Homo sapiens: one gene and its partners. The protein of the gene in region 2 interacts with the protein of the main gene of each other region in a pairwise test. Each region holds a gene or a part of one and is shown on either strand. Other genes may lie near its edges.

Region 1 (4,489 bases), on a different chromosome or scaffold from region 2:
ATTTGTTCTCCAGTGTTTGAACTAGTTAAAATAGCAGGGTAATGTTTTTCTTTTCTTGGCTCTGCATGTATTTCATAGTTTTAGTTCTCCTTTTATGAGAATGAGCTCATATGAAAACTCGAAGTCTAATTTAACAACACTGACAGACTAAAAGTGGCATTCTTCAGTCTGTCACACTGTGCTATCAGACATTACAATGAATGAAATGAGATAGGAAGGCAGGTAGAAGTTTCAGTTCATCAACAAAGAAAAACATTTGTTACTGATTATCCTTTCTTATGTTTGAATTTCATCTTTTAGGGTAAACAGGTTGACAGCATCAACTTGACTTCAAGATTCTCTTTCAAGAAATTACCATTTGAATAAGGATGTTCCATATTATGGGCATCTGGCAATGATCTACAAATACAGAACCAACTATTCAAAAAGCATGGGAAAAAGCAGATTTTTTTAATGGCTTATGCCTTTCATCTCCTTTTTTTCTTTAGTCAATTCTGGAAAAAAAACTTCCAACAATTAAAAACTTACAGTTGTTCATATTTTTTAAATTGCAAAAAAGAGAAGAAAGATCAGGCCGTAATTAAAAATCTTAATTTCCACACCTTTCTTCATTCTTTCTAAAATACTGTACCTTTTCATAATTAATTAACCTGGATTTCTCTTATCTTTTCATCTTATTAGAATCCTTCTCTCATTATTCATAGATTCCTTTCAACTTGATATCAGAATTGAGAACCCAAGGTTCAGTGTACAAGGGCACCTCGGCTGAAGGAGACTCTAGGACTCTGTTCTAAATCAATGGCCTGACCTCTGGATAGGGAGGGGTTTTGGATAATGCAGTGTGGAAGGAAGTATCTGGAAAAGACAGAAAGAAATCTTTGGATTACATTTTCAATGTGCTAGCTTTGTAAAGAGTTAAATATAGCCAGTTAGGAGTAAAAACAGAAAAGTCTTAATAACGTGTAACTTTTACTATCCTCTGCTTTCTAAAAAAAAAACTTTTCTACGATCAAGCTTTAGGATTTTGAGTTCCGTTCTCTGAAGAGTTTAATTAGGTTAAGTTTAATGAAGATGAACATTTCTGATAAAATGCTGTAATTCTCTTAATAGAATTTCATAACAAATTAAGAAATACATGTGTGGCTAGGCGCGGTGGCTCATGCCTGTAATCCCAGCACTTTGGGAGGCCGAGGCAGGTGGATCACTTGAGGTCAGGAGTTCGAGATCAGCCTGGCCAACATGGCGAAACCCCGTCTCTACTAAAAATAAAAAAAATCAGCCAGGCCTGGTGGTGTGCGCCTGTAATCCTAGCTACTCGGGAGGCTGAGGCCGGAGAATAGCTTGAACCTGGGAGGCAGAGGTTGCAGTGAGCCAAGATCATGCCACTGCACTACAGCCTAGGTGACAGAGCGAGACTCTAAGAAAAAAAAAAAAAACAAGAAGAAGAAATAAATGTGAACATTTTCCCTAAGAGATATCCAGCCTTAAAAATAACTAGTATTTTCTAATATAAGCTTCAGCAAACTTTTAGAATTGTGGGCCAAGTTTTCTCTAATGTGAGAGAAACAGGAATGTGTGATCAGCAGACAGCCTGTCATTAATTCTCCAGAGTAGAAATAAGGGTTCACACTGATTTTCCCAGCCAGTGGCAGCTCTAAAAAGGAGGGGGCAGTTGAGTAGGGTGCAACATCTACACCAAGTGCTCTCCTGGAAAATGCACCATCTCATTAGATCCAATCCCACTGCTTTGGAATTCAAACCACAAACTCCCAGACAAAGCTGTAGATACTAAAAGCAGTTCAAATTTAGTCATTTACAGTGGAAAGCAACTCCATGAGGGAACTCACCACCACATCTCCTTCCTGCGGAAGACTGTTTGCTGGCAGCCTATTTTTCTCTTCATTGTTGTGGTAAAGGGCTCCATCATTTCTCATCACCAGACTGTGCATATCTCGGCCAAGAGGAATCTGATTCAAGTTAACCTTCTGAGTTGCAACACCAATACCCCAGATTCCTAAAAATATAACAGTTTAAATGCCCTCAAAATCTGAAGACTACAACCATCGAGTTATTTTAAAAGGGAGTATAAACTTTTTAAAGGAAGTGCTGTATTAACACTAAATTGTTTTCTATTACTCTTTTTAAAAAATCTTCTTTTAGAAGTAGTTTGCACCAGCCTGGGCAACATGCCCAAACCCCGTCTCTACAAAAAATACAAAAATTAGTTGGGCATGGGAGCATGTGCCTGTAACCCCAGCTACTCAGGAGGCTGAGGTGGGAGGATTGTTGGAGCCAGGGAAGTTGAGGTTGCAGTGATCCATGATCATTCCACTGCACTCCAGCCTGAGCGACAAAGCCAGACCCTGTCTCAATAAATAAAATAAAATAAAAGTAGTTTGCAAACTATACTATGTTCTCCACAGATGTAGTACAGCCTAGGAGATAAGAGAGTGGGCCCTGGAACAGTGCAAATGAGGATTAAATCTTGACTCTGCTACATCATCTTGCGCAAATTACCTAACCTCTCTTTGTTCCCTTATCTGTGAACTGAGGATTCTAACAGTACTCACCTTGCAAGGTAATGAAAAGATACAACAAGATAATCCAAGTAAAGCACTTGAACAGTGTAAGTACTCCACAGCATGAGAAAGTAAAGCACACAGTAAGTATTCAGAAAATGCTAGCTGTCATCATCATCATTATTATTATCTCAAAAAGATTTTTTAAAAGCTACACATTGAATTTAAATGGCCTGGAGTTCAATTTCAAGCTCTCCCTTTGAAAAGTGGGAATGTACTGTCTTCAGTTTTTACATCTACAATGAGTGACAAACAATATATACCATAAGCAATATCATGGAGAGGAGAAATTAACAATAAGGTGTAAAATCATTTTCTTACCCAGTATTTTAAGCCACCACACCCAGCTAATTTTTCTTTTCTTTGTAGAGATGGGGTTGTGCTATGTTTGCCCAGGCTGGTCTCAAACTCCTGGCCTTGAGCAACCCTCCTGCCTCAGTCTCCCAAAGCGCTGGAATTACAGGTGTAAGCCACCATGCCCCATTGAAAATCATTATTTAAAACTAATTTAGAGCTAGGCACGGTGGCTTGAGCCTGTAGTTTCAGCTACTGGGAAGGCTGCGGCAGGAGTACTGCTTCAGCCTAGAAGCTCAAGGCTGCACTGAGCTATAATCATGCCACTGCACTCCAGCCTGGGTGACAGAGCAAGACCCCATCTATAAATAAATAAATAAGTAAAAATAATTTAGAAAATAAGCCCTAGGGGGAAATTTTATATCATTCAAGGCTGGCCAAGTAATAGTAAGATTCATTTACTCCACTCTCATTTTCCTATTCTCTACCCACATTACTGATGCAGTATTTCACTAGAAGTTTATTTACAATAAAGCTTGTTTTGTTTTTGTTTTTGTATTTGTTTTTTTGAGACAGAGTCTTGTACTGTTGCCCAGGCTGGAGCGCAGTGGCACGATCTCGGCTCACTGTAACCTCTTCTTCCTGGGTTCAAGCGATTCTCCTGCCTCAGCCTCCCGAGTAGCTGGGATTACAGGCGCCCACCACCACGCCTGACTAATTTTTTGTACTTTTAGTAGAAACGGGGTTTCACTATGTTGACCAGGCTGGTCTCAAATGCCTGACCTCGTGATCCACCCCCTCGGCCTCCCAAAGTGCTGGGTTACAGGCGTGAGCCACCACGCCCAGCCACTTTTTTTTTTTTTGAGACGGAGTCTCACTCTGTTGCCCAGGCTGCAGTGCAGTGGCATAATCTCAGCTCACTGCAGCCTCTGTCTTCCGGGTTCAGGCAATTCTCCTGCCTTAGCCTCCCGAGTAACTGGGACTACAGGTGCCCACCACGATGCCTGGATGATTTTTGTATCTTTAGTAGAGATGGGGTTTCGCCATGTTGGCCAGGCTGGTCTTGAACTCCTGACCTCAGGTGATCTGCCCACCTCGGCCTCCCAAAGTGTTGGGATTACAGGTGTGAGCCACTATGCCCGATCACTTTACAGTAAAGCTTTTATTTTAAAAGTTTTCCCATATACAATACAGGCACAGTTAACTAACCTATTATAATCACATAGAATTGCTTTACAGTTCAAGAAACTCCATAAATTTTAAAAAGAGAAATATAGACTGCAGACTTCTATCTGAATTCTGAATTTGATGACTGCTTCAAAACACTGAATCAGGGTATCTTAATAACTGAGTTAAGAGAAAAACTCTGGCTCATGCCTGTAATCCCAACACTTTGGGAGGCCGACGAGGGCAGATCACAAGATCAGGAGTTTGAGATCAGCCTGACCAACATGGTGAAACCTCTGTCTCTACTGAAAATATAAAAATTAGCTGGGCATGGTGGTGCATGCCTGTAATCCCAGCTACTCAAGAGGCTGAGGCAAGAGAATTGCTTGAACCCGGGAGGCGGAGGTTGCCGTGAGTCAAGACCGCGCCACTGCACTCCAGCCTGGGTG
Region 2 (4,489 bases):
CCAGTGCATACATGAAACCTCAGATAGTATTGAACCCTATACATACCGTGTTTTTTCATATATATATATATATATACCTATGATAAAGTTTAATTTATAAATTAGGCAAAGAGATTAACAATTAAAAATATATAATATATAAAAGGATAATTATAACAATATACTGTAATAAAAGTTATGTGAATGTGGTGTCTCTCTCAATAATCTTATTGTACTGCACTCACCTAGTTTTGGACTGTGATTGAGACTAAAATTGAGGATAAGGGAGCGCTACTGTATTTAAAGTGAAAAAAATTAAAATTACTCATGAAGCTTGCATATTTCTACTGCCTAGTGTTACTGTAAGCCATTAATGTCAATCCCACTTCCCTTGCCAATAAATGGTCAGAGATATAAAAGGAAAGCAATTCTCACTCATAAGAAAACAGATTCAAGAAAGAAAAATTGAGGATAAGGGAGCGCTACTGTATTTAAAGTGAAAAAAATTAAAATTACTCATGAAGCTTGCGTATTTCTACTGCCTAGTGTTACTGTAAGCCATTAATGTCAATCCCACTTCCCTTGCCAATAAATGGTCAAAGAGATATAAAAGGAAAGCAATTCTCACTCATAAGAAAACAGATTCAAGAAAGAAAGATGGGAAGATAAGATCTCTTCTTTGTCTAACAATTTTTTATCTGGACATAGTGCCTGACACTTATACAGCCACCCTGCTATGAGCCAGAGACAAGAGAATTGTTGAAAACCAGCAGGGCAGTCAAATTCTAGGCTGAAGCATCCATTTCTGTATCTCTCAGTTAAATGATATAACAGATATTCTTATTGTTTTCTTTTGTTTTGAGACAGAGACTCGCTCTGTCATCCAGGCTGGAGTGCAGTGGTGCGATCTCAGCTCACTGCAACCTCTACCTCCTGGGATCAAGTGATTCTCATGCCTTGGCTTCCTGAGTAGTTGGGATTACCTGCGCACACCACCACAGCCAGCGAATTTTTGTATTTTTAGTAGAGATGTGGTTTTGCCATGTTGGCCAGACTGGTCTCCCCTGGCCTCAACTGATCCACCCACCTAAGCCTCCCAAAGTGCTGGGATTACAGGTGTGAGCCACCACACCCAGTCCTTATTGTTTAATTCATTTTTAGTTAAGGATTTTTACTTGTAGCAAATGCATCCAGATAATATGCATATGTCTTCTATGCTTTTGATCATGCTGTTTTCAATCACCTAAAAGCTTTTCTTACTACTCTCCATCCATCTAAACCTTTCTTAAATTTAAGCACGACTTTCTTGGAAACCTAGCCACAAGGATTTTTTCCCTTCTCTGAAGTATTTCACCTATCAATGATATCTTAAAATGTCTATGTTTATAATATACTATCTTGTTCTCACATTTTCCTATATTTACATAATTTTTGTCTTTACAACAAAACTGGAAATCCCGTAAAGGACATGAGAAGTATTCTCAATACTGGGCTTAAATCCTCACTATGTATCCCCAGTAGAGGTGTATTTAGAGGTGTACGCTCATAAGCAAATGACTCAATTTCTTTGAGCTTATGTTCAGCCTACATCTATCTATAAAATGTACAGTGTAGAAAAACATTCCAGCTTACCTTATATTTCACTGAAAGCACTGTCTTAATGATAAAGTACTTCATAATATTATCTTTTTTTTTTTGGAGATGGAGTTTTGCTCTTGTTGCCCAGACTGGAGTGCAATGGCATGATCTCAGCTCACTGCAACCTCCGCCTCCCGGGTTCAAGCGATTCTCCTGTCTCAGCCTCCCGAGTAGCTGGGATTACAGGTGCCCGCCACCACACCCAGCTAATTTTTGCATTTTTAGTAGAGATGGGGCTTCGCCATGTTGGCCGGGCTGGTCTCGAATTCCTGACTTCAGGTGATCTGCCTGCTTCGGCCTCCCAAAGTGTTGGGATTACAGGCGTGAGCCACCGTGCCCGGCCATATTATCTTTTATCCTACTTAATTTCTTTGAGCTTATGTCCAGCCTACATGTATAAAATATACAGTGTAGAAAACACTCCAGCTCATCTTATATTTCATTGAAAGCAATGTCTTAATGATAAAGTACTTCACAATATTATCTTTTAGCCTACATAAAACCTATCAGGGTTTAACTAAAGTGGAAGAGCAAATAGATGACTGTTCCTTCTATAAAGAGACCTAAGAAATAAATTAATTACATTTGTTTTTCTACAGTGGTTCTGAATCAACGCCCCTAACAATTCAGGATCTAACACTGAACTCAATCCATGCTTGAACAAAATAAAAGTCAGGCTTGTAAAAAAAAACAAGGTGAATGAAGTAAAGAACTGGCTACAAATATGAAAAGTACTTCCTCTACACTGTTACCCACATGTAAATAAATATAATGGGCTCCCCCCAGCGCCATTCAATGAGTGAACAGCAAGGTATATTCCCCTTGAGTTTAAGAGTTTCCAAACTTACTAGTAGATTCATAGGGACTATGAACATTTTCCAAGTGGCACTGAAGCTGGAAGGGAGTGGAAAACTGGCGGTAACAGTGCTGGCAGATAGTGTGACCATCTACCTCACCGTTCTGCTGATCGAGTTCTACGTGGTGTTTCATATGGTTCATGAATCTGTAATAAAGCACAAAGAGAAAGTACAGAAAACATAAAAAATTGGTAGCCTTTTAGAAATATAATGGTAAAATCACAGAACAAACATTATCTGCTCCCCTCCATTCCCCAGACTTCCTGTTTGGGATATCCTTTTCTGAGCCCAGAAAGATAATGAGTTCTTGAAACTAAGAGAGTTCTGGGAAAGGAGACATACTGCTTTCCCTTACTCGATCCAGTTACCTTTTGTTTATTACCACAATATCTCCTTCTATAGTCCTAGTTATTGATTTAATGATAACCCCAGCAAGACTGCATAGTAGTTAGGTCCATTCTCCAAAGAGAAAGACTTAAAATATATAAGAAAATGTAAGTCTTCTCTTGTTCAAGGTAACTTCCAAGGCTCTTAAACACTTACCGAATATTGTTTTTTAGCCTTTTGGTACAATGTGGGCATCGGAAAGATGTGGCGACCTTAGGGAAATTTGTGAGCTGGGCTACTTTGCCACCATCCCGTCCATAGTAGAAGTCATCTACAAGCATAATGAGTTTGGTCTGGACGGCATCGCCCACGTTCTCATTTGGTTCTGGTACTTTGGTAGGCGGTGACAGAGCAGGAATAGGTGTAGAAGAGGGTGTGGAAGCAACAGGAGCTGTTTTCTCAGGGGATGGGGGCTTTGCTGCTGATGGGACACTGGGTTCTGAATCCAGGGACTTTCCTTTCTTCTGGTATTCAACCATTTCTGGGCAACAGTACTATAAAGAAAGACATCTGATCATTCTGGTTATCCTGGGGGCTAGAATGTGCTAACTCCTTAACTTCACTACCATTCCTTGTTAACGGTTTGGTTTCAGGTATTCTCATTCAGCTTTCACCCTTCAGTTTTTTTTAGCGTTTCCAAGTTTTACTCCTTTTCTAGAGTATATCCACATATGCCACCCAAGCGCTATACTTTGTATTTCTCCCTCCTGCCTGTCTTAGGTCCCTTAATCATTAGTATAACTTGGCTCTGAGCTCCCTGGCAAAGAAGAAGTTCCAACCTTTTTATCTGGACTAATACCAAAAAATGAAAAGCTAAAAAATGGAAGTAAGAGCTCCCGATTCATCCAATGACACAATTAACAAAAATGAACTGAGGCCAATATGGTTTGAGTCCTTATTATCTATAAACCTGTTCTCCTGTGTGGTTTCAAAATCTACCACACTAAGAAAGTAAGATCACATATGTTCTGATCTATTTGAGGGTCTTTAAATGTATCCCATCACATTCCAAAGTACACAGCTCTTCTAAAAACAGACCAAGAGAAACAGTAACCCTTTAAAAAGCTTCAGTCATTTTAGAGCCCCTGCTTACAAGCTTCCAATATTAATGAAGGTAAATGGCAGAAGCCACTTAAGCTGGATCACAGGTGATATCACTTACACACATGTGACCTCTCAAAGCTTCAGTAACACGAAATTGAGCATTACATCGTGGACATATTTTCCGTCCACCATCCTGGAGGTCAAATACTGGGATGGAAGAGGTCACTGAAAGAAGTGAGAAGAATTGATAAGATTAATACAATGACACTGGAAAAAGATTACTGACCTTTTGGGAAAAAGTCAAACACTCCCTGAGAAGTATATAAAAGGGTAAGCAAGCATGAGAGATCACTATGGTTTTTGTTTGTTTTTGTTTTTTTTGAGACACGGTCTCTCAGTCTGTTGCCCAGGCTGGAGTGCAGTGGCACGACCACAGCTCACTGCAGCCTTGACCTCCCTGGGCTCAAGATCACTATGTTTGAGGCTTCCTTTTACTGTTCTAACTCTAGGCCAGGGGTCAGCAAACCACAGCACACAGATCAAATCCAGCCCAGCTACCAGTTTCTGTTTGGCCCATAAGCTAA
Region 3 (4,489 bases), on a different chromosome or scaffold from region 2:
AACTGTGAACCTCAACATCTCGAATTTGGTGAAGATCCTATGGAAATGATGAGTGGAGGAAATTCAAGTAGAAGTCATGGGTTTGAGGAAGTATTTTGGGGAGAGGGAAATATCAAAGAATAGCACTTAGAGACGAATAAGAAAGAAAACGATCCCCTAACTCTTCATCAGTTCAATTTCCTACTCAATCGTAATAACACATTTATACACGACCTACTATGTATCAAACATAGGCGTCAGGGATGACCAAATGGACATCATTTTTAGTCACAATCTGCAGAAGGATAGATAAGTAAAAACAGACATGTGCAAGGTGACACGGTAGGTATTCTCCCAACAGGAAGCACAGAGAGCCCCGACCCAGCTTAGAGAGTGATAAGTGGAAGCTGACAGACTGAGTGGGGGCTAGCCCTGGGAAGTAAGCTTTAGGCAAATGGATCAGCACATAAGAAAAGGCCATATATTACACACACGCACACACACACACACACACACACACACACACACACACATATGACAGCAGCAGCATTTGAAAGACAAAAAGAGTTCCATAGGCAGAAGGTGGCAACAGAAAAATTGAGACTATTGAAATGAGGACCAAGATGGGTGTAGACTTGCTGGCCATGGTACTGAATGTAAATTCTATTCTGAGGTGGCAGGGTCTCAATGGGCTTTGAAGGGTTTTAATCTAGTAAGTGACACAGTCAAATCCGTTTGTGGAAAGATCAGTGCCTCCACCTGTAGCCTGTTGCCTACAGTGTTGTATAACTAAACAAGCACTGGGCTGGGAGACCAAGGAGCCCAGCTCTGATCCTAGGTCTTACCCTATCTCATTTTATCACCCAATATGGACCCATTGATCTTTCCATGGTTTACTTTCTTTCACTAAGAAAATGAAGTATTTGAACTCATTAATTCAAATTATCTACGGCTTAATACTGCTAACAGTCTGTGAAGTGCCCTATGGATTATTTTTATTTACAGAAGAAGACATTTTCTAAAGATGTTAGTCATGTGAGTTTAAGAGAGTATTTTTATACTGAGTTCCACATAAAAGAACCTTGCTAGATCTTTCCATTGAATGAAGGGTATGAATGGAGGATATCTTAAGAAGTATTTTAAAATAAGAATATTCAAAACTCTGACATTATCTATGTTCTCTCTATAAATATCAGGCCATAGTTTTCTTGCCTCAGGGAAAGCTTAAAAAACTTCAGTCAACCACCACATATATCATTTGGTTAACATAATTCGGCATTACTGTGGTGTGTGAACATTTCCTCTCCCCTAAAGGCTGTGGCAGCAGCACTGCAAGCTCTTCTATTCTCTCCCCTTCAGCTGGGCACCAGAGCTATGATCATGACCATTCATCCCATTCATCCTGTGGTCACACAGCTATTCACAGTCAATTCCCTCTCTCACAACATCTCCATCGATCTCAAAACACTTGGGGAAATCTAGGAAATGGTGTTCTTCAAAAGGCAAAGAATGGAACTGCACACTTTAAGTCTTCAAACAACCTCAGGAAACTTTTAATTGAATGACTTTGTTAAAATCACAATCTATCCAAAAATACCACCTATAATCAGCCTTACTGACATTGAGGTAACTATGTTTTCTTGAATTAACAATCGTCTCTTTGCAACATATGAAAAATACTATTAATGACAAGAAGGAAAGTCGTGTAAGTTGTAAGAAGAAAATTCAATTTGCCTTAGGTGATGGTCATTTGTAAAATATTTCTGTCATACCCACAATGAAAGCCATCAATGTTTAAAGCTTAAAACCCATACAGAGAGTTTAGAGAGGCTCCTTATTCTACATAGTTCATCCTTGCTACCACACATCTGCCACTTTGCTCTCACAACTCCCATCTTTGGGACCAAAGCCTTCATTCTGCTCCTAACTTCCATCTCCCGAGGGGCTAGAATCCTATTATGAAAACCGTTGAGCCCCAACCACAAGTACGTGCCAGAGATATAGAATTCCCCTTATTAAAATCCACCATTAAGATGTCAAAAGTACGGAGAGTATATACCATTTCTCTGTATGCTTTTAGTCTCATTTATATGTACATGGAGCCAATCTTATTTTATAGATGCTTATGCAGTTTGAATATGCATGCGCAAATGGGAATAATGAATCAATTATTTATCAAAAATATTATTGGTCTATTTATGAAGTACTGTACCATGATTAGTGAAGACATTATTACTGAAAGTAGAAATCTATTTTTGAAAATGCACTCCATAAAGATTGAACAAAGTTTTAAAATGCTCCAGGGAAAAATAAAATTAAAAGGAACTTAATATTTTCCCAGTCAATATGTCTCTTGAGATGAATATAAAGTTTGCAAAGATCTATGCAGCCCTTTAAAAAAAACCTGTTACATTTACAATTGAAACAATATTGAGTTGAAAATATGTTTATGAAGAAGTTTATACTTCAAAATCACTATTCGGTGTCTTGCTTGTTTAAGAAAAAAAAGTCTTGATGCAAAGGAAGAGATGATATGCTTTGTTTCATGCCTGAGAACCAGTGTGCTTATTTCATATGTATGTAAATTTTTTTCATTACATGATTCTTTGCTTATGAGTACTTAATCACAGCCACATTTGTTGGATGAAGAAGACATATGAAAAACTGCATGGGCTATTTCTATGCAATATTACATTTCAGGTGAGTGAAGAAAATACAATACTTTATGCTATTAACACTATATGGTGAGTTTGGATTCAATATTACCTGGTATACAGGTGATGTTAACCAATATTTGGATGATGTTGACACTGACAGTCTAACACATACAAAATGCCCAACTGTAATTTTGGTTCAATTTTCATTTGGGGTTAAAAATATTACTCACACATACATACACACGAGTTTATTTCTAGACAAAAAAGAAAATGATAATATTGATACATTGTCTAATAAAATCCACTAAAAGCAAACCCAGTAATCTCACTATCTGATTTAGACTGCAACATGGTATACCAGGTATTTCTTTCAATTTCACAATAGTGGGATACTTTTTACACTGATTGTAAATGTCTCTTAAAAAAAACACACACACACACACATTACCTCCAAAAAAATTTTTTAAAATCTCCGAGTAAAAAATTTAAGAAAGATAAGATTCAAAATTTAAAGAATGATACAGCTTATTAATTTTGAAAATAACAAAAACTAAATTAAAAGGAAAATGGGACAATGAAGTGTTATAGAAACTCTAAGTCATCTTAAAAATTTCCAGAAAACACATTAGAATCAATATTGATTAAAATATGATTATTAAATGCTAAAAGGTAACATTTTTACATTTTTTATTAATATCAGTTAAAAAACAAAATTCTACTCAATTCTTAAGCTAAAGTGTTCTTGCTGTAATTTCATTGCCATTCTCTTGTTGTTCTTCCCATAAAAATAAATGGCTGGGTCAGAAGTGAAATGACATGTGTTCCAGTGTTTTCTGTCATTCAGTAATTATGCATTACCATTATGTCCAAAGATTGCCTTCTAGTTACTTTCTTCTAGAGTTGCTCAAAATGGGCCTTGTGACTCTACAATGAGAGTTTCAAGGGATGATGTCAGAGGCCGATACTCCTTGGAGGCAGCAGGGTGAGATTAGTCACGCCTCACTTTTTTCCCCATGTCTTGGTCCTATGGACATTCTGTTCATTTCCAGTATCAGCCAGCTCATCAGACAGGCCCTCCTTTTCCTTTCTCCATTTGACTATTTAGGTTTCGTATTTATTTTGAGAGCTTTTTCCCATGAGAATGAATTGCCCAAGCAGACCCTATGTACATCAATGAGCCAACAGATGATTTTCTTTGCAACTGCAATATCAGTAAGATTAGCATTCTGTATGGTTTTAAGTCAGTGATTTACTCTGCTATGGCTTGACATAGCTCCTGCCCTTTTCTACAGATACACACAGACTCATTTCTGTAAAGATCAGTGCATAGGCATATTTGAAACCAATGTTTAGCGCTGTGCTAAATTAATCATATAGATTATTTTTAAAATCTTTATAATAACTCTAGGAGAAGGGTATCAAGAAACATATATTTGTATGGAGATAAGGGACCAATCATATTCATTAGGTTTGTTATTTTTTTTTTTTTTTAGATAGAGTCTCACTCTGTCACACAGGCTGGAGTACAATGGCATAATCTCGACTCACTGCAACCTCCACCTCCCGGGTTCAAGCGATTCTCCTGTCTCAGTCTCCTAAGTAGCTGAGATTACAGGTGGCTGTCACCTTGCCTGGCTAATTTTTTGTGTTTTTAGTAGAGATGGGGTTTCACAATGTTGCCTAGGCTGGTCTCGAACTCCTGACCTCAGGTGAACTGCCCGGCCGCGGCCTCCCAAAGTGCTGAGATTACAGGCATGAGCCACCACGCCCAGCTAGTTAGGTTTTCTTAATGGAAAGAAATGAAATTCTTTCAACCCTGTTAGAATATATAGCAGGATTAGAGGTAACTGATA
Region 4 (4,489 bases), about 16 Mb from region 2:
AACAAAGAACAAAAAAACTCAAAAAATAACAGATGCTGGCGAGGTTGTGGAGAAAAGGGAACACTTATACACTGCTGGTGGGAATGTAAATTAGTTAAGCCATTGCGGAAAGCAGTTTGGCGATTTCTCAAAGAACTTAGAATTGCCATTTGATACAGCAATCCCATTATTGGGTATATACCCAAAAGAATATAAATTTTTCTGCCATAAAGACACATACCCATGCGTATGTTAATTGCAGCACTATTCACAATAGCAAAGACATGGAATCAACCTAAATATCCATCAACACTAGACTGGATTAAAAAAAATGTGGTGCATATACACAACGGAATACTATACAGCCATAAAACTTTCAGTACATATGTACACAAAGAAGGGAACAACAGCCACCAGGGCCTACTTGAGGGTAGAGGGTGGGAGGAGGATGAGAATCGAAAAAACTACCTATCAGGTATTATGCCTATTACCTGGGTGATGAAATTATCTGTACATCAAATCCCTATGACATGTAGTTTATCTACATAACAAACCTGAGTGTAACCCTGAACCTAATAGTTTAAAAATAAGAAAAAAAGTAATTGGGAGGTTGGGGTTAGGGCTCAGGAAACTTTTCTAATTCCTCAAGTGATTTTTTAATTTTTTTATTTTTTAGACGGAGTCTCACTCTGTCACCCAGGCTGGAGTGCAGTGGTTCAATCTTGGCTCACTGCAAGCTCTGCCTTCCCAGTTCACACCATTCTCCTGCCTCAGCCTCCTGAGTAGCTGGGACTACAGGCGCCTGCCACCACGCCTGGCTATTTTTTTTGTATTTTTAGTAGAGATGGGGTTTCACTGTGTTAGCTAGGATGGTCTCGATCTCCTGACCTCGTGATCTGCCTGCCTCGGCCTCACAAAGTGCTGGGATTACAGGCGTCAGCCACCACGCCTGGCCATTAATGACTCTTAAATAAATCAAATCTTAGGAAGCACTAAGCTATAGGATTTAAGGTCAAACTCCTGGAAACTTAATCTAAGGTTCTTTAATGATCTGGTCTCTGCTAATCTTTCTGGGTTCAAATTTCACTATTACCTGCATATGCAAACTTATTCTGCAGTTGTAAGGCACTACTTATAGTTCTCAAACACAGCTTATTGATTTTTCTTCCATGTTTCTAAGGTTTGCAAATGCTGTTCATTTTCCAAGACTGACATTCTCTCTTTTGTAAGCCTATGAATGTATTTTCCCAAATTCACTGTGAAGACTTATCTGAGCACAAAGTTACAGGGGTCTCTTTGCTTGGTTCCCATAGCATTGTGTGCATATCAAATCTAACATAATTTAGGTCTGTTTCCCTGCCACTAAATTGTGAGCCCTCTGCAAGTAAATACTGAATTACTTATCTCTGAATCTTGAATATATGCTAGAATAATTATTTCATGACAAAAGATTTTGGAATGAATGATCAAGAAGAAAAAAGGCAAAAAAACCCACTCAGAAATAATAAAGAATCATTAGTGATGCACTAATGTTCCTTGGGTTGAAGCCTTGATACTCTGACATTCTTCACCCTGATTACATTAACTGACCTTACAGACGAGTGGTTGTTTGATATATTAATTATATAACATTTACCACTCAAATGACTCAAAGATGTTTTTTATAACTCACGAAATTTGTAGTTTCTATTATAGCAGTCTTCCCTCCTTAAATTAAAAAAACAATGGTTAGAAGCACATACTTTCAACACTCAGTCTATATTCTTTGAATACACTTCCATGAAAAACAATCAAAACACTAGCAGCAACTTATCCAATTTATGTTTGGCATGTTGAATAATTTCACTTAGACTTTTGGCCAAACTCTTGGTTCTTCCTTAGTGATTAAGCAGATGAATGGCAGTTCAGGGCAACCTTCAATAATGTGGTATTTATGACAAAAAACAAAACAAAACTTTTTTTAAACGAAAGTTTATAATCAAATAAAATTTAATAAAAACATTGGTCTAATAGTTTCAGGGCCAAAATGATAGTAGTTCATGCATGTGTAACATTCAGCGAACAGCCTTGGTATACCACTAATAAGCTCTAAGGAGGAGCTCACCCTGCTGGCCCTGGGGCGTCTGTGAGATGATAAACTGCGCTGGCTGCAAATTGGTGGTTGGATGCACCAACACAAACTGTTGCAGGTTGAGATTCTGCTGTTGAAGCTGTTGCAGTTGTTGAAGATCCTGAAAAATTGGAATTAAAACATGGATTGGAGATTCTGAAATAAAAGTTCGCTTAATTATAAGGCTTCCAGCTGATGACTTCTGTCACATCCAAATAAAGAAGAGTAAATACTTCGCATGCTTTCATATTCCAAACAGGGTATGCTCTGTGTGTGCTTGACAAAGCACGTGAAGCAACCTGGAGCCTCTGCAACTGACTATTTTTGTGGACTGACATATATTGTTATGATAAGCCTAATTTTCAATGTTTCTTTAAAATTCCCTCAGAACAAATATACTTCTGTTTTTTATCATGTAAAGACCAATATGGGTTTTAAAAATCAAGTGAGAAAACAGTTTTTAAATATTTGATTGATCTTTCTCTTAAATAAAAATTGATCGTGTTATGTCTGAATTTCCATCAATAAAGGGCCTATAATGACTTATGACATTTGACAACAGCTTATCTAACTCAACTGAAAAATCAGTATTCAATTTTTTTGCCCTTTTCCACATGTTCTAAAGTATTCAATTTTTTAAAACCAAAAATAGCTATCCATATAAAAATTTAATCCCTAACAACAATAGCACCTTACATTGGCCTACTGTTTTATAATTTTCAAAGTGTTTTCATGAACGTTATCTTATTTAGACTAATGTTAATATAGGGTCTCACAGCTTAGGCACTAAAAACATTTATTTGGTGATGAGAAAGTGGCCAAAATCAAAACATTATCTTGATAAAGATTGTATAAAGACTAGTCTGATATTTATTCTCTACTCTTACAGTTAATTAGTTCTTTTTAAATGGTTAGTCAAACTCTTGCTACAAGTTAAGTCCATTTCTGAGTCTTTTCTGAGACGGATAAAGACAGCTGTCTAACAATTAGACTCATAATAACTCTTCATATATTTTACTGATATATCTACTTATACCTTTTTCCTCTTCTTGAGATTAAAGATTTTATTTATTTTCCTCCTTGGTACTATTGTGTATGCTTCTTAATTTTTTTTTTTTTTAGTGGCGCGATCTCGGCTCACTGCAAGCTCCACCTCCTGGGTTCACGCTATTCTCCTGCCTCAACCTCCCGCGTAGCTGGGATTACAGGCACCTGCCACCACACCTGGCTAATTTTTTGTATTTTTAGTAGAGATGGGGTTTCACCGTGTTAGCCAGTATGGTCTCGAACTCCTGACCTAGTGATCCGCCCGCCTCGGCCTCCCAAAGTGCTGGGATTACAGGCGTGAGCCACCGCGCCTGGCGCTTCTTAAATAAATTTTTATTATCTCTAGATACTTTGCCCTAAAATGTGAAAATTGAAACCAAACAACATTCTAATGCAATAATGTTAATCACTCCATAGCAGAGATGACTCACTGTCTCACACATGGGTGGCAACATTCACCGCAGAGCACATGAAAAAAAATCCATGTCTGCTGTAATTAGCTAATTAAAATAAATACAGTAATCCCCTGCTTCAAAAATATGCCAGCTAATTATTCAAGAATTGTCACTTAATATAAAGTCAGTTATTCAAATAATCAGCTATATGTTTACAATATCAACTACAATAAGCAAACAAACATTATTTCTAATTCAGTGGTAAGGAAGGGTACCGCTTACCTCACTGATCTAGAGCTCCTCAGGCAGTTAAGGCCCCACACTAACAATCAAAAAGTTAATCTAACATTAAATAAAACCTGCCACTTTATTCCTCACTTGCTGCCCCAGCTATTGGAGTTCCTCACTCACCTGTGCGATCTGTATGGGCTGAGACAGGGGGATCTGCGTCATGGGCGTGGCAGCAGAGGCGGAGATGGTGGCTCCAGCAGCACTGTGCTGCTGGCTGGCGGAGTGCTGCTGCACTGCAGCAGCCAGCAGCTGTGCCTGTGCCTGTGCCTGCTGGAGTAGTAACTGTTGCTGGGCAGGCGTCAAAGTAAGCTAAACAAAACCAGAACACATTATGGGAAAGTGTTGAAGGAGAAAGTCTCCTAATGCAAGCCAACTGCTTTAAAATAGGTAACTCAAATGATATCAGTCCCCAGCTACCCAACTTCACTTGCTTAGCAGACAGCTAAAATGTTCATCAGTGATCAAACTACCATTACTAGCAGAACATTTAAATTAAAATGGTGGTCCCCACTATGGACTTAATCATTCAAGCTTGTCCAGGGCCCTAGGGTTTGGGCAAAAAAGTAATTAACTAGTAAGCAAGAAAAAAAAAAAAGAATCACCACTGACAAGATATGAAAATACATTTACACACAACCAAACAGCAAGTGATTAGTCAGATGAATGA
Region 5 (4,489 bases), on a different chromosome or scaffold from region 2:
ACGTGATTCTTATAGTTGGTGGCGCTGGTGAAGCCGCGGCCACAGTGGGGCTCCGGGCAGGTGTAGGGCCTCTCGCCTGTGTGGGTGCGCACATGTACCTTGCGGATGTTAGATGTGGTGAAGGAGCGGCCACAGCCCTCAAAAGGGCACTGGAACGGGCGTTCACCTATGCAAATGGTGGGATGTGAGGAGGGGTGTGGGAAAGAGGGCCATGCTGGAGCAAGCTGGGGATGGCACTGGGCTCCAGGTCTAAGTCTGAAAGGCAAGCTGAATTCCTTTTGCCCAGGGAATGGGGTTGGAGTGGGCAGGGCCCAGCATACCAGTGTGGGTACGGACATGCTTCTGCAGGTCTCCTGAGGTCTTGAAGGCCTTGCTGCACAGCTCCTCTGGGCACTTGTATGGTTTCTCACCAGTGTGGGTACGAACGTGGCTCTTCAGTCCATAGCCTGTCCATATGTGGCAGGCAGGGGGTGAGATGAGCACCCAGTGGGGTCTCATCCTCCACCGTCCACCTCATGCACAGGCTCTCCACCTCCTTTGGCTCAAGAAGCCCATGTCTGCCTCTATCCCACCCCTGCCCTGGGCAGGGGCTGGAAAAGCCCACTCTGCCCTGCTTCCCTCTCCAGGAGCAGTTGGAGCCATACCAGAACATGAGCATGAAAAGAAACTTAGAGAACTCATGGCTAAAGGTACTAGTTTCACAGAGGGGAAAATAAGCCCAGAGAGATGCAATGGCCCACCCAATAATCCACAGCTGGTTGGCATCAGAGCTGACACAAGAGGCTGGGTCTCTCCACCAACCCTCCAGGCTCCTTCTGCTGGCCTGAACCATGCTGCCTTGCACTCCCGTAACAAGGTTTCCTCCAGAGAGAGCACCCTGCAAGTCAGAGTACTCTGACGGTAGTTTCTCCAGGAAAGCAGCCTGGTGTTGGGTTCCCTTCAGAGAGGTCCCAAACAGAACGAGAACCCTCCACCCTCAACTGGAAGCAGCCCACCAGGCAGGTTACCTGTGGCAAAGGCCTTTCCACAGCTGGGGAAGTCACATCTGTATGGACGGTCACCTGTATGAGCTCGTTCATGCACCTGTGAGGACAAGCAATCACATAATTCAGAGGAGCAAGGGTATGACCAGGGCTCTTTGGTTTTCTTTAGGACCCTGATTCTCTTCCCTCCTGTACCATTCATGTGTGTCAAGCGCTCTGTGCTGGCATTCCTGTGTACCCTCATTTCTTCCCTCCAGCAACGTGAGGGCAGGGACCAATTCCAATCAAAGCAGAAAGGTAGAATTACAGCCTGGGAGGGAAGACTGCAGAGCTGACGGCTGTCTGCCAGCAACCTTACCTTTAAGTGATGAGCGGTGGTGTAGAGACGCCCACAGCCCTTGTAGCCACAGCGGAATGCTCTGTCTCCAACTTGCTGCCCTTTTCCATTACGGGGAATCTGGCTGTCATGAAGAACCTGGGGGAAAAGTCTTGAGATCCCTATATGTATTCTCCCCAGTGAAGAAGGTGGGACACAGGGCCCTGCTGGCAGCTTAAGACCCAACAGGCAGGGTTAAACCTGTCAGGGGCCTCTGGGGCAGAAGAACATAACTAGACGGACAAGGAACAGATGCTGGGGCATGCTACAGAAGAAACAGGGTGGGCATGGGGAGTCACCACCCATCTCTGATGGGATAAAGGGAGACCTACAGGTCATAGTGGCTGTGACGGCTATTGAAGAAAGGCTATCACATAGACAGCTAGGTAAGGTGAAAAGGGAGGTTGTCTGAATGGCCATGCTTGAACTGGACCAAGTGCCAGAAACCCTCCTTCTAAGCACACACACCTAGGAGCCTGCAACTCTCAAGACCTCCATCTTCTGATGGGAGGGGTCCCCTTCCTCCTGGCACGAAACTAGTGCTTAAAAGTACATAAACAAGGGGGCTTGCTGTGGAGATGAGCTCACCTAGGTTCATCTGATAGGACTTGGGGCCCAGAGTGAGGTGGCCACGACCAGAAGCACCCAGGGGAGTGCTGCAGTTTCCACCAGAAATGTCAGCTCTAATGACAGCACCCAGCTGACAAGTCCTCCCCTTTTGTCTCCTCTTCTGGGATATTGCTAAAGCCACCCATCTCACACCAGCCTCTGGATGCAGGGAGCCCTTATTGCTCTTCTGCTTTCCTGGGCAGGGTCCTGGTGGGACTATCCCTTAGTCTTTCTTTCTAGAATGCTTCAGAATCACACTCTGGTCTTTCCAGGAGCTCCTGAAACTGAACTCTACAAGTTACAGTGAGCAGGGGACAGAGGGGTGAGGCCAAATTCATGGCAAGGTCTGTCTAGTTAGGCTCCAGCTCAGAGGCTCAAGCAGCTGAGAGCTTCACGGACACTTAAACAGCTTCTGGGTAGAGGGTAGGGTCAGAGGTGGCCTGACCTGCTTGGCGGGCTAACCCACACAGGCACTTGGATTTCATTCCATGTCTCACTAGCTCCTGGGGTAATCACGGGAATCAAGGGACATCAGGGATGGAAGTGACCTCTGAGATCATCTGGTCCCATCTCATCATATTAGGAATAAGCTGAGGTCGAGGAGAGGAGGGACTCACCCAAGTTTGGACTAGGTAGAGGTAGAGCAAGCATAGATCTCAGGGCTCATGATTTAAATAAAACCCACTTCTCTTTACATCAACATCGAGTCTCAAATTTGGTCTCTAAGATATACCTCAGGGAACCTGGGTGGGAGTGAATGTAGCCTACTGTAAAGTTTTGTGACTTTTTTTTTTTTTTTTTTTTTTAGATAGGATCTCCCTCTGTTGCCCAGGCTGGAGTGCAGTGGGACAATCTCAGCTCATTGCAGTCACCGCCTCCTGATCCTCCCACCTCCGCTTCCCAGTAGCTGGGACCACAGGTGCGCACCACCATGCCCAGCTAATTTGTTTTTGTATTTTTGTGTAGAGATGAGGTTTCGCCATGTTGCCCAGACTGGTCTCAAACTCCTGGACTCAAGCGATCCACCTGCCTCAGCCTCCCAAAGTGCTGGGATTACAGGCGTGAGCCTCTGCTCCCGGCCTGTGCTTCATTTTGAAAAGACATGAGGACTTCCTTTTTTCCTCCATCATTCAGTCACACTGGTTTCATTATAAATAAAAAACCTCCCCCATCTTCGGGTAAAACTGCTGGAAGGAAGGAACGTGCAGGAAGCCCTGGCACATCCAGCCTGAGGCTCTGTAGTCATTCCAGGAAGGGAACACCCTGGTTTGGAAAGCTCAGAGATGTCTGTACCCTTTTCCCCACATGCAGGACCATGGTTTCGGCAGAAAGAACTTGGACTGACTGGTATTTGCAGAGCCAGGACCCTTTTCCTTTCCAGCTGAGCTACTGTGTGGGCCTCATAATCCAGGAATCCCAGCTGTTCTGTTGCACATGCCCTTGTCATAGCCCACTGAGGTTAATTTTCCAAATGACTGAGTCACAGAGAAGAAATAAATACAATTACCTCAGTGGACTAGAAAGCTAATACAAGTCACTGGCAGGGCTTTCCCAGCTAGTGCAGAGGATTACTACAGCAGCCAAAGTGAAGCTGGGCCTAACTCCTCAGCATAAGGATGCCACTGTTTCTTATGGCAGCTTTCCCTCTGCAAAGACAGCGTAAACAAAAGTGAGCGTAAACAGCTGTCAGCGGCCAGGCCAGGCTGTGTTGCATGCCCTAGACAATGATGTGTGACAGGTGAGTTGGGGGAGCTGGGGTGGAGGGGCAAAGGGAATATCCCACATGGTGCCCAAGCACAGGGCTGCCCTTGTCCTCTTGAGAGGTGAAGTTCTGGCAGGGCCAAGAGGCAGTGCGCAGGCCAGGCCCGGTTGTCTAGAGTGACAGACCGTGTCACGCTGTGCGTGCTCACCTTGCTGGCATACTGCTCCAGGGCCACCACTGCGTCTGCACTGAAGCCCTCATCATCCTCTGCTGCCAGGTCCTCCAAGCCCACCTCTGTCTGTACGGCCAGGATGGTGCTCTCCGATGGCACAGCCACAGGGTGGTGAATGTAGGCAGTGGAGCCATCTTCCAGTTGGACGGCTTCCAGGGTGCTGGGGTCATAGCCTTCTGCAGGGAACACGCGGTTAGCCCTGATGCCACACAAGGGGAAGAGATACAGCTGGGACCCTAGCTTTAAGTTAATGAGAGATACATATACCAAGGAGGGTTTCAACATCCAATTTCTCATGGCCCTTCACTTTGTGATTCACTCTTGCTGGCCCTCCTTCTGCAGCTGTCTCACCTAAGGATGAGGTCTCCTATGGTACACTAAATGGGAACTCACAAGCTCCTTGAGGACCTGACAGGGGCCCATCATCATTTTGGCTTAGATGACCACAATAGCCTCCTGACCAGTCGCTCCTCACCCCCTCTAGTTCCCTCCAGGCAGCACAACATCCAGAGGGATCTTTGCGGGACACAAATGTGACCATGTCACTTAACTGCCTCAACAGTTTAAATGCTTCCCACTGGTCTCAG
Region 6 (4,489 bases), on a different chromosome or scaffold from region 2:
CTGGGCGCGGTGGCACATGCCTGTAATCCCAGCTACTCAGGAGGCTGAGGCAGGAGAATCGCTTGAACCTGGGAGGCGGAGGTTGTGGTGAGACAAGATCATGCCATTGCACTCCAGCCTGGGCAACAAGAGCAAAACTCCATCTCAAAAAAAGAAAAAAAAAAAAAAAGAATGCTATTCCTTTTATTTTTATCCAAGTATAGGAGGTTTAGAGATCACTCTGGCCAGGTGTGGTGACTCATGCCTGTAATCCCAGAACTTTAGGAGTCTGAGGCGGGTGGATCACTTGAGATCAGGAGTTCAAGACTAGCCTGGCCAACATGGCAAAACCCTGTCTCTAGTAAAAATACAAAAATTAGTCGGGTGTGGTGGCACACACCTGTCGTCCTGGCTACCCGGGAGGCTGAGGCACAAGAATCACTTGAACCCAGGAGGCGGAGGCTGCAGTGAGCCGAGATCACGCCACTGCACTCAAGCCTGAGCAACAGAGCGAGAGACTCTGTCTAAAAAAGAAAAAAAAAAAACAGAAGGGATCACTCTGAGGAAGGGAAGAGCCACACTACATGAAAGCAAAAGATGGAAGAAACTACACAGAAAAGGAATTACATACAGAGGAGCCCACAGATAGAGGATTCCTTAACATTTAACATAGTAAGACATTGTAGAGGTGGAGGAGGAAGAAGGAATTTACAAATCTGTCCTTTGGCTCATGATACATTGACAAAATGATTCATTTGAAATGGCTGCACAATAGTCCAGAAGCCAAAGCTGTACTAGTAAGTTGAAAAGTACGTTGAAAACTGATACTCCAACTGATTCGTTAGAAAATATACACGAGAGAAAAGCAAACCATTTAAAATTTTTTAAACAATTACAGTAAAGTCCTCAGCAGCAGAAGACTAGATATGTTAAGGCCAGCCAGTGATAGACTGAAGGAGATTAAGGGTGTGACCAAGAGAAAAGACATCAACACTACAGAATCTGAAACATGTAATAAATAATACAATGAAAAAGAACACTACAGAGCAAAAATAGCACAGTTGTAAGAAAATGAACTTATGTACACACAAGGATATCCACCTCTAAAAGTGGGAATATTTTAGAAAGGAAAAAAAAAGCCCATAATGCATGGAGGTTGACATCAAATTGAATATAAAAATGCAACTCTGAGCATAGCAAAGGACCAAATTTGGATCCAGGTTTGTAGCAAAAAGTACATCAAAAGAAAGAACATGATAGGAAGTACTGAGAACTTTTAATTCCTAGTAATAACTTATCTGGACACTTTATTGCCAATAACTATACTTTACCAGATATTTCCCAGCATGCACTATTTCCATGTTTCCATTAAGCTAGATTTCCTAAAACTGTGGCTTCTCTACTTTGATCACTTGGCATACTAAATGAAAACACTTCTCTAGCCATATTTTCAACACTGGAAGCTGTGCCTTACCTTTCTTCCTTGCTTTAACAGCTTCTTCCCACAGTCTCAGTGTTTCTACTTGCTTCCCTGGCCAGCTTGTCACATGTTGTTGTTGTTGTTGTTGCTGCTGCTGCTGCTGCTGCTGCTGCTGCTGCTGCTGCTTTTGGTTACTGGTCTCTTCACTCATGCATGCTATTACAAAGACAAACCAAAAACACTGTATCTACCTGTAAAACTGTTGCCGTTTTTTTTCAAAATTGACTTCTCATGCTTCTGTGATCTTAACCATTTAACCTGATAGCTCTTAGTAAGTGCATCTTTTTTGCTGCTGTGTCTATATTGGTCAAAATAAACAAGCACTAAAAAGTCTAGAGAACTAGCAAAAATCAATATAAAAGAGAAAAGGACTCTTTGCTATAAAAAAAAAACCATCAAAAAAAAAAAAAGCAAGTGTCTTTAAAAATGGAAGTTTGATATTATTAATATAGGACTAATCAACATTCAACAAAATTTTTTATTTGATCACAATAATGTACACTAAAAGTGAATGTTTATAGGCCGGGTGCAGTGGCTCATGCCTGTAATCCTAGCACTTTGGGAGGCCGAGGCAGGTGGACTGTCTGGGCTCAGGAGTTCGAGACCAGCCTGGGCAACACGGTGAAACGCCGTCTCTATGAAAATACAAAAAAAGTAGCAAAGGTAATCGGGCATGGCAGTGTGCACCTGTAATCCCAGTTACTTGGGAGGCTGAGGCAGGAGAATCGCTTGAACCCAGGAGGCGGAGGTTGCAGTGAGCCGAGATCGTGCCATTGCACTTCAGCCTGGGCAACAGTGTGAAGACTCCGTCTCAAAAAAAAAAAAAAAAAAAAACAAAAAAAACAGAAGTGAATGCTTATAAAGTACAACATACCAGTGTACTTACAAAGAAGTGTACTTACAAACCCAGTGTACTTACAAAGAAGTAAAAATGGATAGATTAACACACATTAAGCTTTCTTCCCCATTCTCTTGTGGCCACCTATTTTTTTGAGAATTTGATGTTTCTACTGCATAAAGTACATATATAATAGAATAAAGGATTAGGAAAATGCCTTCTTCTAGTGGTTAGGGCAATCTTAAAAGAAAAAGCCTGGGTAAATGCAAGTATTCTATCTTCAACTCTGAATTTAAGGCAAGCAAAGCATTTAAACCTTCAAGTGGATATGATATCTCATTTCTCTACAGATTTGGGTTTGAAAAGCAAGCTTATTAATACTGCTTTCACCTTAAAGGTTATTATTAGCTTATCAATGCTGTTTGCATACATGAAAGTAAAGCATAGTTCTGACATTAATATACTCTGTCCATTGTTGCCTGTTTGCACATGTTGGCAATAGGAGGAAACACGTAAGGTGAATATTAATACCTTTGATACAATATGAAAACATGCATATTTCACCCATCTGAAATATAAAAGAAAGAAAATCTGAAGCACCACCTACTTTTACTGATGCCTTGTTTACATGTATTACAGTTGATACTTTGGCTCTGCCCATGAGTCTTTAAGTGGCTGGTGATGTATGCTGCACTCAGGAGCTTCCCACAGATGTTACATGATACCTTGCCTTCATGGCGCACCATGTGTGTCCGCAGTCTGTCTTTGGTGGCAAAGGCAGCAGTGCACGTCTGCATGAGGGAGGAAAACTTTTTTTAAATATAGACTATCCTGTTCTACTCATTTTGAAGTACGTTATATTCTGTGCATTACCCTATCCACATCAGCAAGCTGACAACTAGTTGAATTTTAATTGCATATGTTACCTAGAATCATAATCATAATAAAACTCTTGATAAATTTTAGACTCTTCCATTTTGAAGGAAGAAAATACATCAACACAGAGTAGCACAAAAAATGTAAGCTTTAGGGTAAGTTAAACCTGGGTTTAAGTTGAGCTCCACAATTTACTAAATGGTGTAATGTTGAACAAGTTGGTTAACCTATCTGAAAGCTTCTTCATCTGTAAAATGGGGATAACATCTCTCACAAAATTACTGGTGGATTAAGAAAAGCCTGGTATACACAGCAGGCACTCACTCAATGACACTAGCTTCCTTCCTCCAATTAGATCTTTCTTAGCATTCAAATCATTTACTTAATAAAATCAGTCATTAACAAACTTAACTGAAAGGTGTACTAAAAGACTTCCAGCAACAAACTAAAATTACCAATGCCTAAAACAGTCATTTGATTTAGCAAAATTCTTAATGTTTTCGTTATTATAATTGATGTCAAATAAAATCATTAACTGGAATAGATTTTTAAACAACTAGAAAGTGTTCCAATTTGGTAATAACAAACAAAAATCTAGTAAGTGGTAACATTTGGGAGAAAAATTCATTATTTTCTCCTATTACAGTTAAAACAACTTCAATAATCAACCCAGAAATTAAAGCCCTTTATTCTTTTATTCATTTCAAATACACAACCACCTTTGCAAGACTGTAACTTTTTTTTCCTAACAAAAAATACTATTGCCCAAAGAAAGGGAAATATAGCTTAAAAAAAACAACACGCTTAAATTTTTAAATGATCTTGCTTTACAGAAACAGAAGCTGTCAGTTATATTTTATAAAACTAGAAGTCAAATGGGCCACATTTACTCAGGTCAGTGATTTTAAGACTATTCAAGAATGGTGAGATTCAACTGGCTCAGACCTTCTGGATAATGTGCATTAAGTGCTACACTAAGGATAAGTCATTTTAACTCTTACTTGGCATTTGAAGGGTCTTTCTGTTGAATGGACATGTTTTACATGACAGCTTAAGTGGTCAGGCCTGTGAAAAAGAGAGTTTCAACAGAAGATATAATCGAACACATAGAGAAATGCTACTTATGTGATGCTCACATGCTTGGCAGATTGGGAAGGGGTGCATTTTAGGGAAAGCTAGCAGAATTACCAACCTCCCTCCCCCGGTGCAAGTCTCCTTCCCTCTCTTACCATGAACAAAGTCTTAGGCCTCTACCTGTTAATTTTCTCTCCTAGTCAACATCAAATCATATTAGGTCTTGATTCTTTACAATTACA
Region 7 (3,329 bases), on a different chromosome or scaffold from region 2:
GAGCAGTGCAGTTTTATTCAATACTGGAGAGAGGGTGATTTCTTTTTTTTTGAGACGGAGTCTTGCTCTGTCTCCCAGGCTGGAGTGCAGTGGCGCAATCTCGGCTCACTGCAAGCTCCACCTCCCGGGTTCACGCCATTCTCCTGCCTCAGCCTCCCGAGGAGCTGGGACTACAGGCGCCGGCCACCACGCCCGGCTAATTTTTTGTATTTTTAGTAGAGACGGGGTTTCACCTTGTTAGCCAGGATGGTCTCAATCTCCTGACCTCATGATCCACCCACCTCGGCCTCCCAGAGTGCTGGGATTACAGGCGTGAGCCACCGCCGGGCCGAGAGGGTGATTTCTAAGCAGAGAATTGTATCAGTTATGTGGAAACCTTTGCCAGAAATACATATACCTTGTATATTAAATCTGAGTCTCAGATTTAATCATCGAAGCGTAGCTGGGTTAAGAAACAGTCTGATCGTAAGGATGTTGTCGATTCTGACCCATGGATGACCACAAGAAAAAGATATTTATTTCTGCCTGGATAATTGAGAGTTGACTAACTTTGGAAGTCAGAATTCCCAGGAATTAGAGTAACTGCTCTGGAAAGTTAAAGTGTGAAGTTTTTTAGATAGTTTCATAAAAACAATTCTGGTTTCTTTTTGCTTGTGCTGACTTTCTTGGATTTTAATCTACCTCATCTTGTCTTTTTAGAGTTACTTCAACTTGTCACTTTAACATTGTGCTTGACTTTGGTTGTTTTCTAAGATGGAATTTTTCCTGTTCATTGACAGCTTGTTCTCTTGCCTTTTCATTCTGATCCTCATTTCATCTAACATCATCTCATATTGCTCCTCTGTCAAGAGAAATGTTTTAAAATAGTTTAAAGTCTTGTTTTATGGGAAGAAAGTGATCCTCCAATGCTATTTGTTTCTGAGGTCAGTAAGAGAAGGAGTTAAAACAAGGCAGTGGGGAAGGGAATGAATCCTGCACTGGAGGCAAAAGCTGACAAGGAAAGAGCCATTAATTAAGACAATTTCAAAGTCAACTGATTGTGATCATTAATGTCACAATAGATCAAAACCTAATTATCACAGCCTAGGTAAGAGCCATCAGTATTAATCGGAAAATCTAATAGGAAACTATTATCAAGAAATTAGGCCAAATTGAATGCAGTGAACTTTTTATCTTGGCATTCTCTATTTTTTTGTGATGTCCCCTGGCATTGGCAGGTGTGACCCTAACAGTCGATTCAAGGCCAAGTGGTCAGTTTGTCAGCCTTTTTTAAGGGATTTCTTTTTATTTTTAGGAATTCCAAACAGAGTTAACCTAAACTGTCATTGCCAAAAGATCAGTCTTAAACTTTCTTAGCACCTGTACCTGTTTAATGTGATCAGCTATCAGTGAGGAAAAAAAAAAAAATCTATTTAGGTCTTGGAATGGTTCCTGTACCTAGAGTATCCATATTGAACCTTTTTTTTTTTTTTTTTTTTTTTTTTTTGAGATGGAAACTTGCTCTTTTGCCCAGGCTGGAGTGCAGTGGCGTGATCTTGGCTCACTGCAACCTCCGCCTCCCGGGTTCAAGCAGTTCTCTGCCTCAGCCTCCTGAGCAGCTGGGATTATAGGCGCCTGCCACCATGCCCGGCTAATTTTTGTATTTTTAGTAGAGACAGGGTTCACCATCTTGGCCGTGCTGGTCTTGAACTCCTGACCTTGTGATCCGCCTGCCTCGGCCACTCAAAGTGCTGGGATTGCAGGCGTGAGCCAGCACCCGGCCACAGTATCTTTATTACAGCTCACTGCAGCCTCAATCTCCTGGGCTCAAATGATCCTCCTGCCTCAGCCTCCCAAGCAGCTGGGACTACAGGCGCACACCACGGTGTCTGGCTAATTTTATTATTTAAAAAATGTTTTGTAGAGACAGTCTCCCTGTGTTGCCCAGGCTGGTCTCCAACTCGTGAGCTCAAGTGATCCACGTGCCTCAGCCTCCCAAAGTGCTGGGATTACAAGCATAAGCCACCGCACCCGGCCCCTAGTGAACATTTTACTGTATGTGTTGATAAATCATCTTTTGAGTTTCTGTTGTATGTGGGGACTTCCTACACTGGCTGCTGTGAAGAGGTATGGAAGAAAGGAGAGGCTTTCTGCCTAGAAATTCTTTGAGAACACCTGAAAAGACAGTTTAATCATGTCACAACACTCTTAAGGCTCAAGTCAGTGTTCTGGTTTCCGGTAGCTTTAGGATTGGATTCTAAACGAGGGCTGGTGGTGAGTTTGGTGTTTGTCTCGTGTCACCCTCACCCCTCACCTCCTCAGTTTAGGATAAGAGACATAATGATTTCTACCAGAATCCAAAGTAAATCCAAAGGGGGAGAAAAGACATAACTGTTTTTTCTTCTACCTTTTTTTTGTTAAAGAGTTACATCTCTCACAGGAGGAAAGAATTCAAGAGTCTATATGATTAGTTACAGAGAATATTTTCATCCCCTCTCCCTGAATAGAAAAGCAGGGGTCACCATTTGTATCCTTACCCTTGAGGTGTTTTTGAAGATGCTGTAACTCTTGAAGTTGAGCTGAGGCAGAAAGGTTGGAAAAATGCAGCCCTCTGGGTATTGTGGGGAGGGATGTGATGTAGTAAGAGGGTGTTTTGTGGTGCTAGGATTCCCACGCCACCAACTTGCAGCTTTATAAGAGCGCTACCAAGAACCACCACTGGGGAAAAGGTTCTTATTCATTGTTTCTGTTGGAATGTGATCTTGCTTTCTGGATTTTAGGAATTCAGGTTACTCAGTATAAAACTCTGAGAAATCAGTGTGACTTAGTCCTTCACCTCCTAAGATAAAGTGAATATTTCTTTACAAAATAATTCATGTCCTTAATGTTAAAGATGTAATTTTATTTTCAAAACATCTATAACATGACTTTCAGAAGCAGTTCATTTTTCCAAGATTCCTCACATTATACTAGATAAATAATAGGCCCTCAGTTAATACCCTTCAGTTATTGAATTAATCTAGTTTGTGGAATGAGGTGTATCCTGCCAACTTCCCTCTGCTCCCAAGTACACTCTGAGAGGTAAAATGCTCTGGGAAATGGAACAAGAATCGAGTGGATGCTGACTCTGTGTGCCCACCTCCTCAACTGATTGATAATGGTTGACCTTGGGCAAGTCACTTCTTTCAATGCCTCAGTTCCCCATCTGTCAAATGGGGTTAATAATACTGACCTACCTCACAGGGGTGTTGTTGTGAGGCATTGTAAATCAAAGTTAATAGAATACTTCAGGGTCCTCTGTGGAGGATGTCTTGAGCCAGAGTTTAAGCCTGACACACAGGCTTTGGTCC

The links.
Region 1: the proteins of POGZ (region 2) and SPRYD7 interact in binary tests that used the Homo sapiens proteins (3 or more experiments, as listed by UniProt).
Region 3: the proteins of POGZ (region 2) and VGLL3 interact in binary tests that used the Homo sapiens proteins (3 or more experiments, as listed by UniProt).
Region 4: the proteins of POGZ (region 2) and POU2F1 interact in binary tests that used the Homo sapiens proteins (3 or more experiments, as listed by UniProt).
Region 5: the proteins of POGZ (region 2) and ZNF76 interact in binary tests that used the Homo sapiens proteins (3 or more experiments, as listed by UniProt).
Region 6: the proteins of POGZ (region 2) and VEZF1 interact in binary tests that used the Homo sapiens proteins (3 or more experiments, as listed by UniProt).
Region 7: the proteins of POGZ (region 2) and CBX5 interact in binary tests that used the Homo sapiens proteins (3 or more experiments, as listed by UniProt).

What each region holds. Positions count from the first base shown.
Region 1 is NC_000013.11:49,926,072-49,930,560, forward strand, and holds part of SPRYD7 (SPRY domain-containing protein 7), read right to left. Parts: intron 2,015-4,489; coding exon 1,848-2,014; intron 1-1,847.
Region 2 is NC_000001.11:151,420,932-151,425,420, forward strand, and holds part of POGZ (pogo transposable element with ZNF domain), read right to left. Parts: intron 4,131-4,489; coding exon 4,024-4,130; intron 3,356-4,023; coding exon 3,018-3,355; intron 2,621-3,017; coding exon 2,466-2,620; intron 1-2,465. UniProt on the Homo sapiens protein: Plays a role in mitotic cell cycle progression and is involved in kinetochore assembly and mitotic sister chromatid cohesion.
Region 3 is NC_000003.12:86,970,010-86,974,498, forward strand, and holds part of VGLL3 (transcription cofactor vestigial-like protein 3), read right to left. Parts: intron 1-4,489. UniProt on the Homo sapiens protein: May act as a specific coactivator for the mammalian TEFs.
Region 4 is NC_000001.11:167,373,750-167,378,238, reverse strand, and holds part of POU2F1 (POU domain, class 2, transcription factor 1), read right to left. Parts: intron 4,132-4,489; coding exon 3,943-4,131; intron 2,211-3,942; coding exon 2,084-2,210; intron 1-2,083. UniProt on the Homo sapiens protein: Transcription factor that binds to the octamer motif (5'-ATTTGCAT-3') and activates the promoters of the genes for some small nuclear RNAs (snRNA) and of genes such as those for histone H2B and immunoglobulins.
Region 5 is NC_000006.12:35,287,235-35,291,723, reverse strand, and holds part of ZNF76 (zinc finger protein 76), read right to left. Parts: intron 4,102-4,489; coding exon of another isoform or gene 4,079-4,101; coding exon 3,879-4,078; intron 1,472-3,878; coding exon of another isoform or gene 1,459-1,471; coding exon 1,342-1,458; intron 1,084-1,341; coding exon 1,008-1,083; intron 447-1,007; coding exon 321-446; intron 167-320; coding exon 1-166. UniProt on the Homo sapiens protein: May be involved in transcriptional regulation.
Region 6 is NC_000017.11:57,977,699-57,982,187, forward strand, and holds part of VEZF1 (vascular endothelial zinc finger 1), read right to left. Parts: intron 4,239-4,489; coding exon 4,175-4,238; intron 3,107-4,174; coding exon of another isoform or gene 3,089-3,106; coding exon 2,905-3,088; intron 1,616-2,904; coding exon 1,454-1,615; intron 1-1,453. UniProt on the Homo sapiens protein: Possible transcription factor. Specifically binds to the CT/GC-rich region of the interleukin-3 promoter and mediates tax transactivation of IL-3.
Region 7 is NC_000012.12:54,232,336-54,235,664, reverse strand, and holds part of CBX5 (chromobox protein homolog 5), read left to right. Parts: 3' UTR 1-3,329. UniProt on the Homo sapiens protein: Component of heterochromatin that recognizes and binds histone H3 tails methylated at 'Lys-9' (H3K9me), leading to epigenetic repression. In contrast, it is excluded from chromatin when 'Tyr-41' of histone H3 is phosphorylated (H3Y41ph).